Linked DNA regions of Homo sapiens. The protein of the gene in region 1 interacts with the protein of each later gene in a pairwise test. Each region holds a gene or a part of one and is shown in the gene's direction. Other genes may lie near its edges.

Region 1 (7,038 bases):
TCATTAGTAAACAGCATTAAAAGATTTTCTGAATTTATATGTAAAAAAGAGGGGATAACTTACCTAGCTCTTTTTTTTAACTCATTAACCTCTGCTTTTATGTCTTCTGTATATTATTTTTATCTATTTTAAGAGACAGGGTCTCACTCTGTCACCTAGCTGGAATACAGGCTGGACACAGTGGCTATAATGTCATTAGTAAACAGCATTAAAAGAGTTTCTGAATTTATATGTAAAAAAGAGGGGATAACTTACCTAGCTCTTTTTTTTAATCATTAACCTCTGCTTTTATGTCTTCTGTATATTATTTTTATCTATTTTAAGAGACAGGGTGTCACTCTATCACCTAGCTGGAGTGTGGGTTGGACACAGTGGCTCACACCTACAATCCCACCACATTGGGAGGCCAAGGCAGGAGGAATGTGAGACCAGCCTGGGCAACATAGTGAGACACCATCTCTACAAAAAAAAATTTATTTTTTCTTTTGAGGTGGACTCTTGCTCTGTCACCCAGGCTGGAGTGCAGTGGCATGATCTTGGCTCACGGCGACCTCTGCCTCCCAAGTTCAAGCGATTCTCCTCCTCAGCCTCCTGAGTAGCTGAGATTACTTGCCACCACGCCTGGCTAATTTTTGTATTTTTGGTAGAGATGGGGTTTCAGCATGTTGGTCAGGCTGGTCTCAAACTCCTGACCTCAAGCGATCTGCCCACCTTGGGCTCCCAAAGTGCTAGGATTACGGGCATGAGCTACCACACCTAGCCAAAAAAAATTTTTTTAATAGCCAGGTTTGTTTCCACATGCCTTGTAGGTAGTCTCAGCTACTCAGGAGGCTGAGGTGGAAAAATCATTTGAGCCCAAGAGTTTGAGGCAGCAGTGAGCCATGATCATGCCACTGCACTCCAGCCTGAGCAACAGAGTGAGACCCTGTCTCAAAAATGAAAAATAAATAAGCTGGAGTGCACTGGCATGATGATAGCTCACTGCAGCCTCCAACTCCTGGACTCAAGCAATCTTTCCACTTCACTCTCCCAAATAGCTAGGATTACAGGTGTGAGCCACTGGGACTGGCCAAGTTAATTTATTATTGCAGAAAAATAAATTGATAAATTTAGTGTAGCCTAAGCATATACTGTGTTTATAAGTCTATAGTAGTGTATAGTAATGTCCTATGATAAGTACCCTATAAAGTTTACCATTTTTTATCTTTTATACAGTGTTTTCACTGTACCTTTTCTATGTTTAGATATATTTAGAATAGACAGATAGCATTGTGTTACAGTTGCTTCCAGTACTGAGTACAGTCATATGCTGTACAGGTTTGTAGCTTAGGAGTAAACAGGCTCTACTTTGTAGCCTAGGTATGTAGTTAGCTATACTGACTAGGTTTGTGTAAGCACATTCTATGATGTTAGCACAACAATGAAATTGGCTATAACAATGCATTTCTCAGAATGCTTCCTGTTGTTAAGCAATTCATGACTGTGCTCTACAGTTTCCCAGGAGAATGACCAGAAAGCTCCACATCTACCTCTTGCCATATATGATTTCAAAGCCATGCCAATGGGGAGTTAGCAGGTCGACCAGTTTTGTTCATGTGTGTGTGTGCACATGTGTCAGTGCACACATGTTTTCTGCATGTAATTGGATTGTTTTCACAAAATTGCTTTCTTTGTGATTCATGGGGAATCCTGAATCTAGGAGGGAAATTTAACAAGCAATACCTCTGAGAGCTGTAAGGAGTGATAACCCCTTAGATTGTGCACATGTACCCTAAAACTTAAAGTAAAATTAAAAAAAAAATTTTTTTCCATAAAAAAACAAAAAGAACCTTCCTTTACCTTGTTCAGTGTTGGTCAGCCCTCTCAACTGTCTTAGACAAATGTTACACACTTTTTGGTGTAATAAAACCAGAGTTTCCTAGAGTAAGGTGAGAAGGTACAGTGTGTTCAAATCACCTGGATAAAAAGTTATAAAATATTAGAATTTTTATAATTTATTTTGTAATTTCTTTGAACTTGTTTCTGCTTTTTACTTTTACCTTTGGAAAGAACTTGTATTTTGATCTGATTGAAAGTATTATATCACTCTCATAATGTTTTCTTCTGTATTGAGTTACGTAGGATCGATGCCGCTGGCACATTTTATTTTCTGGTTTTTGGTTCTTTTTTAAGCCTTGCCCTTGCTTCTTAAGTTTCTGGTGAAACTTCATTTTTAAAAGATTGCCTTTTTCATTTTTCCTAGAGTTCTGTAGATTTTTGCTAATGACCTTACAATCTAGAAGAAAAGTTACCTTTTTACTTTTGTTTCTTCTACTTGACTGTAGTCATTAAACACTGAAATATTGTGTTTTTATTAATCCTATTGGAGAACATAACAACATTCAGGATTTTTATTGTTGACAAACTGCTAACTAAAATTTTTTTCCCAAAAATTTTATGAAATCATTTATTTTTATCTGAATGAACTACAGCTTATTTGTGGCTTGTGTTCTTTTATTTTTTCTTTCTTCCAAGCTGCTAAGTTTGTGTTATGCATGTGTTCTTTTAATGAACAATTGATGACAGAATTTTATTTTAAAACTTAAGTTAGAAGCCTTTAGTATTAATTGAAAAATTCGAAAACCAAGTTGTTTTTAAAGTACGTTATTTCATATTGTTATAGGGATATTTCACTTGATGTTTGTCTTTGGAAAATTATTATTATTTTTTTTTGTCTAAACTTTAGTCAAGATTTTATAAGATAGCCAACTAAAAACTGAATTCAAGACCAAATTTTTTTAAGTACCTTAAAGTTTTTTGGTGCTCATTTAGTAAAAGATCTTAATCTTCTCATACTTTCTTACAGTGGCAAGCTTAGCTGCCTCAATTGAATACCATCTGCAGAGGGTACTAATTCCTCTAGGCCAGCCACTAGATGATTTTATGAACAGGTCAATATTTACTCATTGTAGTAATGGTACATAGCAGGTGTGCATACTTCGTTGATCTTTTTTTAATAATAAAATTTTTTGGGGGAGATAGGGTCTCACTCTGTCACCCTGGCTATAGTACAGTGCTGCAATCATAGTTCACAGCAGCCTTGGACTCCTGGGCTCAAGCAGTCCTCCTGCCTCAGACTCCCTAGTAGCTAGGAATACAGGCTCGTGCCACCACGCCTAGCTAAGTTTTTTGCAATTTTTTTTCTAGAGGGGTCTCGCTATGTTGCCCAGGCTTGTCTCAAACTCCTGGCCTCAAGCAATCCTCTTGTCTCAGCCTCCCAAAGGGCTAGGATTACAGGCATGAGCCACTGTACCCAGCCTAAATTAGTCTTGTAATTATATATTAAGTTAAATGCTACTAGTAGGATGATTCAAGAGATTAGACACTATTTTCTCATTCTAATTAGATGCTTTGCTTTTCTATAGCTCCTACAAGTCAAATTGTAGGCGTTTGTACATATAAGTACAAAATAAAGATATTTCTACATAAAAAGATTATTTACTCTATTAATGGAAATTATATTGACAGTCTTACACAATAGTGTTTATATTTTAGTTCTTCAGTAAATATTTGATTGGAGTCTAAACTTTTAGAAAGGCCTTAATTAGCCCTTGTGTCCTGTTAAGCATTGCCTTCCTGATAGATGAAATCCCGGCTTAGGTACATAATCTCTTTTAGAAGTCTTCAGACATCTAAAACATCAGTTAACTCCTTTAGTCTACAAACTTTTCCATTTACATTCCATGTTAGGATAAAGAAGCAAATCATAAGAGGAAAAAAATTTTTCTGAGTATGTTTCTCAGATATTACAGAAGTGGTCAAAGACTAGATTTCAGTGCTCTGTCATTTACTGACTATGTGGCCTTGACCAAGTCATTTAAACATTTTGGTTCATAGTTTTCATGTCTCTAAAGTGATTTTTTGTGGATAAAATTTGAGTAGTAGGATAAAAATGTTTAAAAAACAAAAGTTCTATATAAATGTAAGGTATTATTTGTATAAGTTATTTCATTCCAGCATCTATAATCCCATGAAAATAGAATGAATATTCTTACCAATACTTTGGAAACAAAATTCTCCAGTGAAGAATTATGATGGTTGGTATAGGCTAGTTACACAGAAAATCTATTATGTATTTTAGAACATTTTTAAGAATAAGCATCTAAAGATAAGATTTCTGGTGACCATTTTATTCACTGGGTCATCCTATTAACATGAATATAAAATTTCCTAAGTATTTCTATTTCTAAAAGTTCAAATGCCCAATGGGCATGTATATGGAAAGCCTTTTGTATAGTGTCTAGCTATTAGCCACATGGATATTTTGAAAATTACAAAATTCCATAAAAGAGAAAATAATTTACTATTATTTGTTTTAGAAAAACTTCTATAGTCTGGCCTGTTAAAATATCAAAACATTGTTTCAGAATTTAAGCAATGAGTAACATCGATAGTTATGTGATTCTCTTTGGCAAGTTGGGATCATTTTAAACAAATCATCTTCTGGCTTATATATTCCAGAATATGTGTTGTGTGATATATTTATCAGTTGTATTCATCCTCAATTTACCGGTGAAAAACAATGTAGGCTTTTTCCAGATTTTTTGTTATCTACTATTAGGATTTTTTAAGAAGTGCCTACGTATTGAGTAGAAGTAAAATTTCAGTATGAGGTAGTTTTAGTTGTTTAACTTGGTAAATTTCAGTATGTTTGAAACTTTTAGTTATACTTTTTAAATTTCAGTGTGTTTGAAGAAACTGACACAGATTTACAAGAGCTGCAGGCCTCGATGGAACAGTTACTTAGGGAACAACCTGGTGAAGAATACAGTGAAGAAGAAGAGTCAGTCTTGAAGAACAGTGATGTGGAGCCAACTGCAAATGGGACAGATGTGGCAGATGAAGATGACAATCCCAGCAGTGAAAGTGCCCTGAACGAAGAATGGCACTCAGGTGCATGATCAGAGTTTTGGACCTTTTTCTTTTTCAGTTTACAAATATTTCAAGTAGAGTGTATTTTTCTAATCTCTGCTGTGAACCATTTCCAACTTTAAATACAACTGAAGCATGCCTCTGGGTCTCTCCCCTTTTTTCATTCTTTTTCTTTTCATACAAATGTGTGATTTTCCATTTTTTATTAAAGTTTTTATTTCTTTCCTATTATGTCAATGCTTTTTTGAAGCATTTTTATTCTAATCTCCATTTATTGACTGATTTTTCCAGTAATAAAGATAATAACATTGTTTTCTTGGCATTCTATATTTTAGAAAGAGCTTCTGCATATATTAACCAGCAGAGTTAACACTGAAAGCAGTTTTTAAAGTACTAAAAACTCTTTTCGTAAATTTGTAAACTTTCTCTTTCATAATATTACCCCTAAGATGCATAGAAAGTGTGTCTGTTTCAATAACTATATGATATTAATTTAGGAAGAAAAGCTAATGTGAAAAGACTAAGTAATTTTTTTCAAAGTATGTCGAGCACGTACATGACAAAACATATTGGCCATTTATACTTTCTAGGTGCTTTCCTGAAATGTAATGATGTATGTCTTAGGTTGTCTACCTTTTGCAGGCTTTTCCATGGTGTTTCCCGTGTTTATTACCAACTTTTGAAAATACTAGTTAGGGTTAGCTGCTTCAAAGCAAAACATGGAGGTGTGCTTTTTCCACTTTTTTTTTTTTATTTAAGTAACATCTCTAGGAGTGTTTTGATTCCAACCTGATTTATTTTTTATATCTATACATGAAAAGTAACATTCTTGTTTAGACAGATTTATACATTTTTTTTGCCAAATAAAGGACAAATATTAAAATGACAAAAACTGTTTATAATGAAAGTAGAAGTAGTCTATTTCAATGGCATTATTCATTTGTCATAGAATTTTAGTCTATTAGGGTATGAGTTATTCAGTCTTTTTAAATCAAATCTCTATTTTAATTTTGTTTTTTAGATAACAGTGATGGTGAAATTGCTAGTGAATGTGAATGCGATAGTGTCTTTAACCATTTAGAGGAACTGAGACTTCATCTGGAGCAGGAAATGGGCTTTGAAAAATTCTTTGAGGTTTATGAGAAAATAAAGGTAAGTGAAAAGTCAATTAAAACACTTAAAATGTGCTATGTTTGAAGGTTGAAGAAATGTTGATAATCTGTATTGGTCATTAGATTTATTATAAATAAAAAGTGAAGTCTGCAATTACAGAAAGTTATTCAAATATTAATTTATATTTGGGAATTTGGTATAGGCTATTCATGAAGATGAAGATGAAAATATTGAAATTTGTTCAAAAATAGTTCAAAATATTTTGGGAAATGAACATCAGCATCTTTATGCCAAGATTCTTCATTTAGTCATGGCAGATGGAGCCTACCAAGAAGGTAAGATTTCCTCACATGTCTGTATAATTTTCAGTAAATGTGAGAAAAACAAGATGATACATGTATATGAATCAGCTTACATCACATCCATTTTGTGAAATCTACTTGGGAACTATATAACTTTTAAGCAATAATAAAATTAACTTTGTCATGTACTTTTACTGATCTGTCATATACTTTTACTGACTTAAGTCCTTTAAGTCCATATTTTTAATTTAATTTACAAGTAACCTTTGAATGAGGTTTTTAAAAATCTTACTAGATAGATTTTTGGACAGCTCTAGCAATTAGAATAATCCTAGCCGGGTGCCGTGGTTTATGCTTGTGATTCCAGCTACTTGGGAGGCTTAAGTGGGAGGATGGCTTGAGGCCAGGAGTTTGAGACCAGCCTGGACAACATAGTGAAACCCTATCTCTACACACAAAAAAATTTTTAATTAGCTAGGCATAGTGGTGGGCACCTCTAGTCCCAGCTACTCAGGGGACTGAGGTGGGAGGATTGCTTGAGCCCAGGAGTTTGAAGCTGCAGTGAGCTGTGATTGTGCTACTGCACTCAGCCTTGGTGACAAAGCCAGACCCTGTCTCAAAAAAGTAAATAAATAAAAATAAAGAAGATTATAACTTAGAATAATTCATTTTTTTTTGTTTTTTTTGAGACAGAGTCTTATTGCCCAGGCTG
Region 2 (7,038 bases), on another chromosome or scaffold:
AAGGCACTGAGTTGGAAAAGTAGCCTTTTAAAGTTTATAAATTTAATCTGATGAGGGTAAAAATTAATGTTCTTTTCATTATTTGTAAATATTATCTCCAACAGATCAATAAATCAGAGAAGCCAGAAAGCTGCGATAATGTGAAGGTTGTTGTTAGGTGCCGGCCCCTCAATGAGAGAGAGAAATCAATGTGCTACAAACAGGCTGTCAGTGTGGATGAGATGAGGGGAACTATCACTGTACATAAGACTGATTCTTCCAATGAACCTCCAAAGACATTTACTTTTGATACTGTTTTTGGACCAGAGAGTAAACAACTTGATGTTTATAACTTAACTGCAAGACCTATTATTGATTCTGTACTTGAAGGCTACAATGGTAAGTGAATCTTTACTTTTTAAAAAACTCCCTTATTGAGACATAATTACTGTGCCATAAATTCACATATTGCAGCTGTGCAGTTTGATGAGTGTAGTAAATATATACAGTTGTGAAACCATCATCACAATCCAGCTTTAGAACACCCTTGTCATCCTCAAAATTTCCTTTATGCCCATTTGCAGACCCACCCCCAAGCAACTATTGATCTGCTTTCTGTCACTATAATTTTGCCTTTTCTTGAAATGTCATATAAATGATGTCATATAATATGTCACCTTTTTTATCTGTTTTCTTTCACATCAAATAATGTTTTTGAAGTTTATCCTGCTAGGATTTTCATAGGGATTGTGTTGAATTGTCATTCTGACAATATTGAGTCTTCAGTCCATGAACATGATACTTCTCTTCATTTAAAACGTTGAAACATTAATGAATTATGGACAGGGTCTTGCTCTGTTGCCCAGGCTGGAGTGCAGTGGTGCAGTCATAGCTTACTGCAGCCTTGAACCTGGGCTGAAGCTATCCTCTCACTTCTGCCTCCTGAGTAATGAGAACTACAGCTGTGCGCCACCACACCTGGCTCATTTTTTTGTTTTTGTAAAGACTGGGTCTTGCTGTGTTGCTCAGTCAGGTCTTGAACTCCTAGGCTCAAGCAATCTCCTACTGAGGCCTTTCAAAGCCCTGGGATTTCCCATGTCAGCTACCATGTCCAGCTTCTCTCCATTTATTTATATCTTAATTTCTCTCATCTGTATTTTGTAGCTTTTAGTGTACAAGTATTGCACTTGTTTTGATTAATTTATTCCTAAGTATTTTTTTGATGCTATTGTGAATAGGATTGCTTTCATAATTTCAATTTTGGATTGTGTGTTACTAATATATAGAGATGAAATTGATTTCTTTAGGTAGCTTTTGTGATAAAATTCAAATATCAAATTTATGATTTTAACCATTTTACACTTTATAGTTCATAGGTACATTTACAATGTCGTACAGCTGTCACCGCTGTCTGTTTCCAGAACATTTCTATCACTCCAAAAAGAAACCCTGTATCCATTAGCAGTCAGTCACTCCCAATCCATTACCACCTCCCTTCCCCCAACCCAGCAACTACTAATTTACTGTCTATATCTATTCTATGAGTTTGCCTATTCTGGACATTTTCTATAAATGGAATTATATGCTATGTGGCCTTTTGTGAATAACTTCTTTCACTTACAGTGTTTTCAAGCTTCATCCCTATTGTAACATATAAACATATATCAGCAATTCATTACTTTTTTTTTTTTTTTGGAGACGGAGTCTTGCTCTGTCGCCCAGGCTGGATTGCAGTGGCGTGATCTTGGCTCACTGCAACTTCTGCCTCCTGGGTTCAAGCGATTCTCCTGCCTCAGCCTCCTGAGTAGCTGGGACTACAGGCGCCCGCCAACACACCCAGCTAATTTTTTGTGTTTTTAGTAGAGACGGGGTTTCACCGTGTTAGCCAGGATGGTCTTGATCTCCTGACCTTGTGATCCGCCTGTCTCAGCCTCTGAAAGTGCTGGGATTACAGGCGTGAGCCACTGCACCTGGCTGATTTTTGTATTTTTAGTAGAGACGGGGTTTCACCATATTGGCCAGGCTGGTTTTGAACTCCTGATCTTGTGATCCACCCGCCTCGGCCTCCCAAAGTGCTGAGATTACAGGCGTGAGCCATTGCACTAGGCCAGCAATTCATTATTTTTTATGTCTGAATAATATTGTATAGATATATCATATTTTGTTTATCCATTTATTAGTTGGTGAACATTTGTTGTTTCTACTTTTTAGCTATTACAGATAATGTTACTTTGAACATTCTTTTACAGATTTTTGTGTGAACATATGTTTAGTTTCTCTTGGGTATATACCTAAGAGTGGAATTACTAGGTCACATGGTAACTTTGTTTAATGTTTTGAGGAGCTGCCAAACTTTTCTACAGTAGCTACACCATTTTATATTCCCATCAGCAATGTGTGAGGTTTCTGATTTCTTCACATCTTTGCCAGCACTTGTTACTGTCTTTTTGATGACTGCCCTCTTAGTACCCACAGTTGATTTTTGTATATTGACCTTGTATCCTGAAACTTTGCTAAACTTATTAATTCTAGTAGTTTTTTTATGTTTTGGGTTTTTTGTAAATTTTGTAGGATTTTCTACTTGTAAGAATATGTTGGCCAGGCACAGTGGCTCACGCCTGTAATCCCAGCACATTGGAGGCCGAGGCAGGCAGATCACGAGGTCGGGAGTTCGAGACTAGCCTGACCAACATGGTGAAACCCTGTCTCTACTAAAAATAAAAAAATTAGCCAGGCATGGTGGCACGTGCCTGTAATCCCAGCTACTCGGGAGGCTGGGGCAGGAGAATCGCCTGAACCTCGGAGGCGGAGGTTGCAGTGAACCAAGATCGTGCCATTGCACTCCAGCCTGGGTGACAGGGCAAGACTCTGTCTCAAAAAAAAAAAAAAATGTTGTTTGCAAGTAAAGACAGTTTTTACTTTGTCCTTTCCAATCTCCTTTAATTTATTTTTGTTACCTGATAGCACCTGGAGGCTAGAACCTCCAGTAAATTAGAAGTGGTGAGAGTGGACATTTTGGTCTTGTTCCTGATCTTAGGGAAAATGCATTCATTCTTTCACCAGTATGATGATGTCTGTAAATTTTAACAGATATCCTTTGTAGGTTTGAGGAAGTTCCCTTCTATTCTTAGTTCGCTGAGAGTTTTTGGATTGTATATTGGATTTTGTCAAATGTAATTTTTTTTCTGCACCTATTGAAATAATCTTTTTTTTTAAGGTTTGTTAATATGGTCAATTACATTGATTGATTTTTGAATGTGAAACTAGCTTTGCCACTTGGTCATGATGCATTATTCTGTTCATATATTGTTAGATTTATTTGCTAAATTAAAAAAATTTTGGCATCCATGTTCATGAGGGATGTAAGTATATAGTTTTCTTCTAATGCATTTTTCTGGTTTGGGTATTGTGATAATGCTAGTTTCATAGAATGGGTTAGAAAGTATCCCCTTCTTTTCAGTTTTCTAGAAGAATTTGTCTAGAATTGGTATTATTTCTTAAATGTTTGGTAGAATTCATCAGTGAAGCCATCTGGGCTTGAAGTTTTCTTTGTGGGAAGGTTTTCAACTATTGATTCAATTTCTTTAATAGACATAAGACTATTCAGATTATGTATTTTTTCTTTTTCTCTTTAAATCAGGGTCTCACTCTGTTACCCAGGCTGGAGTACAGTGGCACAATCACAGCTCACTGCAGCCTCGACTTCCTGGCCTTAAGCAATCCTCCCACCTCAGCCTCCCCAGTAGCTGAGGCTACAGGTGTGTGCTACCACGCCTGGCTAATTTTTTCTATTATTATTATTTTTTTCTTGAAACAGGGTCTCACTCTGTCGACCAGGCTGGAGTGCAGTGGTGTGATCATGGCTCACTTAGCGTCTACCTCCCGGGCTCAAGCGATCCTCCCACTTCAGCCCCCTGAGTAGGTGGGACTATATGTGTGTGCCACCGCACCATGCCCAGCTAATTTTAATTTTTTTTTGGTAGAGATAAGGGTCTCACTATGTTTTCTAAGCTGGTCTTGAACTCCTGGACTCAACCAGTCCTCCCACCTCAGCCTTGCAAAGCACTGGGATTACAGACATGAGCTACCGTGCCCGGCCAGGTTATCTATTTTTTCTTTTTTTTTTTTTCTTTTTTTGAGACAGAGTCTTGCTCTGTTGCCCAGGCTGGAGTGCAGTGGCGCGATCTCGGCTCACTGTCTCCTCTGCTTCCCCGGGTTCCAGCGATTCTCTCGCCTCAGCCACCTGGGTAGCTGGGATTACAGGCACACGCCACCATGCCTGGCTCATTTTTGTAGTTTTAGTAGGGACGGGTTTCACCGTATTGGCCAGGCTGGTCTCAAACTACTGACCTCAGGTGATCCGCCTGCCTTGGCCTCCCGGAGTGCTGGGATTACAGGCGTGAGCCACCGTGCCCAGCCAGTTTTTTCTTAAGTGAGGTTTGGTAGCTTGTCTTTCACGGAATTAGTCCGTTTCATCTAAGTTGTCAAATTCATTGGCAAAAGGTTGTTTATACTATTCCCTTATTATTCTTTTAGTATGTTGAATGTAGTGGTATAACTTTTCTCATTTTTGATATTGGTAACTTACGTCTTTTCTTTTTTTCCTGATTAGTCTGACTAGAGGTTTATCTTATCGATCTTCTCAGAGAACCAGCTTTTGGTTTTATTAATTTTTCTTTCTGTTTTTATGTTTCCTATTTCATCTATTTCTGCTCTGATCTTTATTTTTTTTTCTTACTTACTTTGGGCTTAATTTCCTCTTTTCTTTCTACTTAAAGTGGAAGCTGAGGCCATGGTTTGAGACCTTTTTTCCTTTCTAATATGGGAGTTTAATGCTATAAATTGCCACTGAGTACTGTTTTAGTGTCATCCCACAGATTTTGACATACTATGTTTTCATTTTCATGTAGTTCAAAATACTATTTTACCTCCTGATTTATTCTTTGATCCTGGGTTATTTAGAAATGTGTTATTTAGTTTCCAAATATTTTTAAATTCTCTAGAGATTTTTGGTTATTGGTTTCTAATTTAATCTCAATTTAGAGAACATATTTTTTATGGCTTGAATGTTTTTAAATTTATTAAGACTTGTTTTATGACCCAGAATATAGTTTTGTTGTTGTTGTTGTTTTCTGTTTGTTTTGTTTTTTTCAAGACAAGGTCTCACCCTGTCACCCAGGCTGGGGTGCAGTGGCACTATAACGGCTCATTGCAGCCTCAGCCTCCTGGACTCAAGTGATTCTCTCGCTTCAGCCTTCCCAGTAGCTGAGACTACAGGAGCATCCCACCATGTCTGGCTAATTTTTTTTTAAATTTAGTTTTAATTTCAATAAGTTTTTGGGGAACAGGTGGTGTTTAGTTACATGAATAAGTTCTTCAGTGGTGATTTCTGAGATTTTGGTGCACCCATCACCCAAGCAGTGTACACTGTACCCAATGTGTAGTCTTTTATCTCTCACTCGCCTCCCACTCTTTCCCCTGAGTTCCCAAAGTCCGCTGTATCGTTCTTACGCCTTTGCACCCTCCTAGCTTAGCTCCTACTTGTAAGTGAGAACATACGATGTTTGATTTTCTGTTCCTGAGTTACTTCTCTTAGAATAATAGTCTCTAGTTCCATCCAGGTTGCTGCCAGTGCCATTATTTTGTTCCTTTTTATGCATGCCTGGCTAATTTTTAAAATTTTTTGTAGAGATGGGGTCTCACTGTGTTGCCTAGGTGTTGCCTAGCTGGTCTTGAACTCCTGGGCTCAGGTGATTCTCCCACCTCAGCCTCTCAAAGTGCTGGGACTATAGCAGGAGCCACGGCACCCAGCCCAGAATATAGTTTATTATATTTATTTATTTATTTATTTATTTATTGTATTTTTTGAGACAGAGTCTCACTCTGTCACCCTGGCTGGAGTGCAATGGTGCGATCTTGGCTCACTGCAGCCTTCGCCTCCCAGGTTCAAGCAATTCTTGTGCTTCACCTTCCCGAGTAGCTGGGACTACAGGCATGTGCCACCACACCCAGCTAATTTTTGTATTTTTAGTAGAGGTGGAGATTCACCATGTTGGCCAGGCTGGACTCAAACTCCTGACCTCAAGTGATCTGCCCTCCTTGGCCTCCCCAAAGTTCTGGGATTACAGGCATGAGCCACCCCGCCTGGCCATAGTTTATTATCTTTAAATAATAGTAATAATAATAAATAGTGCCTATTTTTTAGGATTGGGGTGAAAGTTAAATAAGAATGCAAACATAGCTGGGAGGTGCACCTGTAATCCCAGCTATTTACAGGTGGATTACAGGCAGGAGGATTCTCCTGAGCCCAGGAGTTTGAGGCTGCAGTGAGCTATGATCGTGCCACTGCTCTCTAGTCTGAGTGACAGGGCAAGACCTCATCTCTTAAAAAAAAAGCATGTAAAGTACATGACCTAGCACATAGCAAATGATCAGTAAGTGACAGCTGATGTCCTTATAAAGCTTATTTTTTATTTAATAATTTAATGTGTCTATTCTGAAATGCAGTCTATGAGCTCATGATATTTTCTGCTTCAAGTGCAGTGTTATATTCCTAATAGCAGAGTTTGAAATACTTAGTCAGTTTGAAAAAATTAAGACTTTTTTATTCCCATGTGTAAAAAATGGCTTCTGGTATGATTCATTTATTTTCACGGAAAAGTCTGAAAAGTGTGTTATGATTATTTTCACAAAAAAAAGTCTGAGAAAAGTTGAGGTTAACTGAATAGAGTAGTATTAGTTGAGGAACCGTTTTCATATATGCCATCACATCCAAGGCTATCTTTTCTTACTACACTGTGTCCTGACCAACTACTCCAGCCCTCTGTTTCCCCACATCGACCCTTGGTTTTCTCCAATTCTTCATCCACAATATAGCCATAGTGATCATGATGTCACTCCTCTGATTGAAAAATCATTCTATGGCTTCATGTTGCTTTTAGGATAAGGTCTAAAAAGTTTAATACCGTCCTTATTATACTGTGTGATTATGGCATTGTCAGTTTCTCTAGCTCTGCCTGCATCCATCTTCCCTTTCCATCTCTGTTTCTTCCATTCTGG

The links. The genes of interacting proteins can lie anywhere in the genome.
Region 2: the proteins of NEK1 (region 1) and KIF3A interact in a two-hybrid assay, tested with the Homo sapiens proteins (one study listed by BioGRID and IntAct).

What each region holds. Positions count from the first base shown.
Region 1 is NC_000004.12:169,399,546-169,406,583, reverse strand, and holds part of NEK1 (serine/threonine-protein kinase Nek1), read left to right. Parts: intron 1-4,723; coding exon 4,724-4,932; intron 4,933-5,932; coding exon 5,933-6,063; intron 6,064-6,226; coding exon 6,227-6,359; intron 6,360-7,038. UniProt on the Homo sapiens protein: Phosphorylates serines and threonines, but also appears to possess tyrosine kinase activity. Involved in DNA damage checkpoint control and for proper DNA damage repair.
Region 2 is NC_000005.10:132,727,545-132,734,582, reverse strand, and holds part of KIF3A (kinesin-like protein KIF3A), read left to right. Parts: intron 1-104; coding exon 105-378; intron 379-7,038. UniProt on the Homo sapiens protein: Microtubule-based anterograde translocator for membranous organelles. Plus end-directed microtubule sliding activity in vitro. Plays a role in primary cilia formation. Plays a role in centriole cohesion and subdistal appendage organization and function.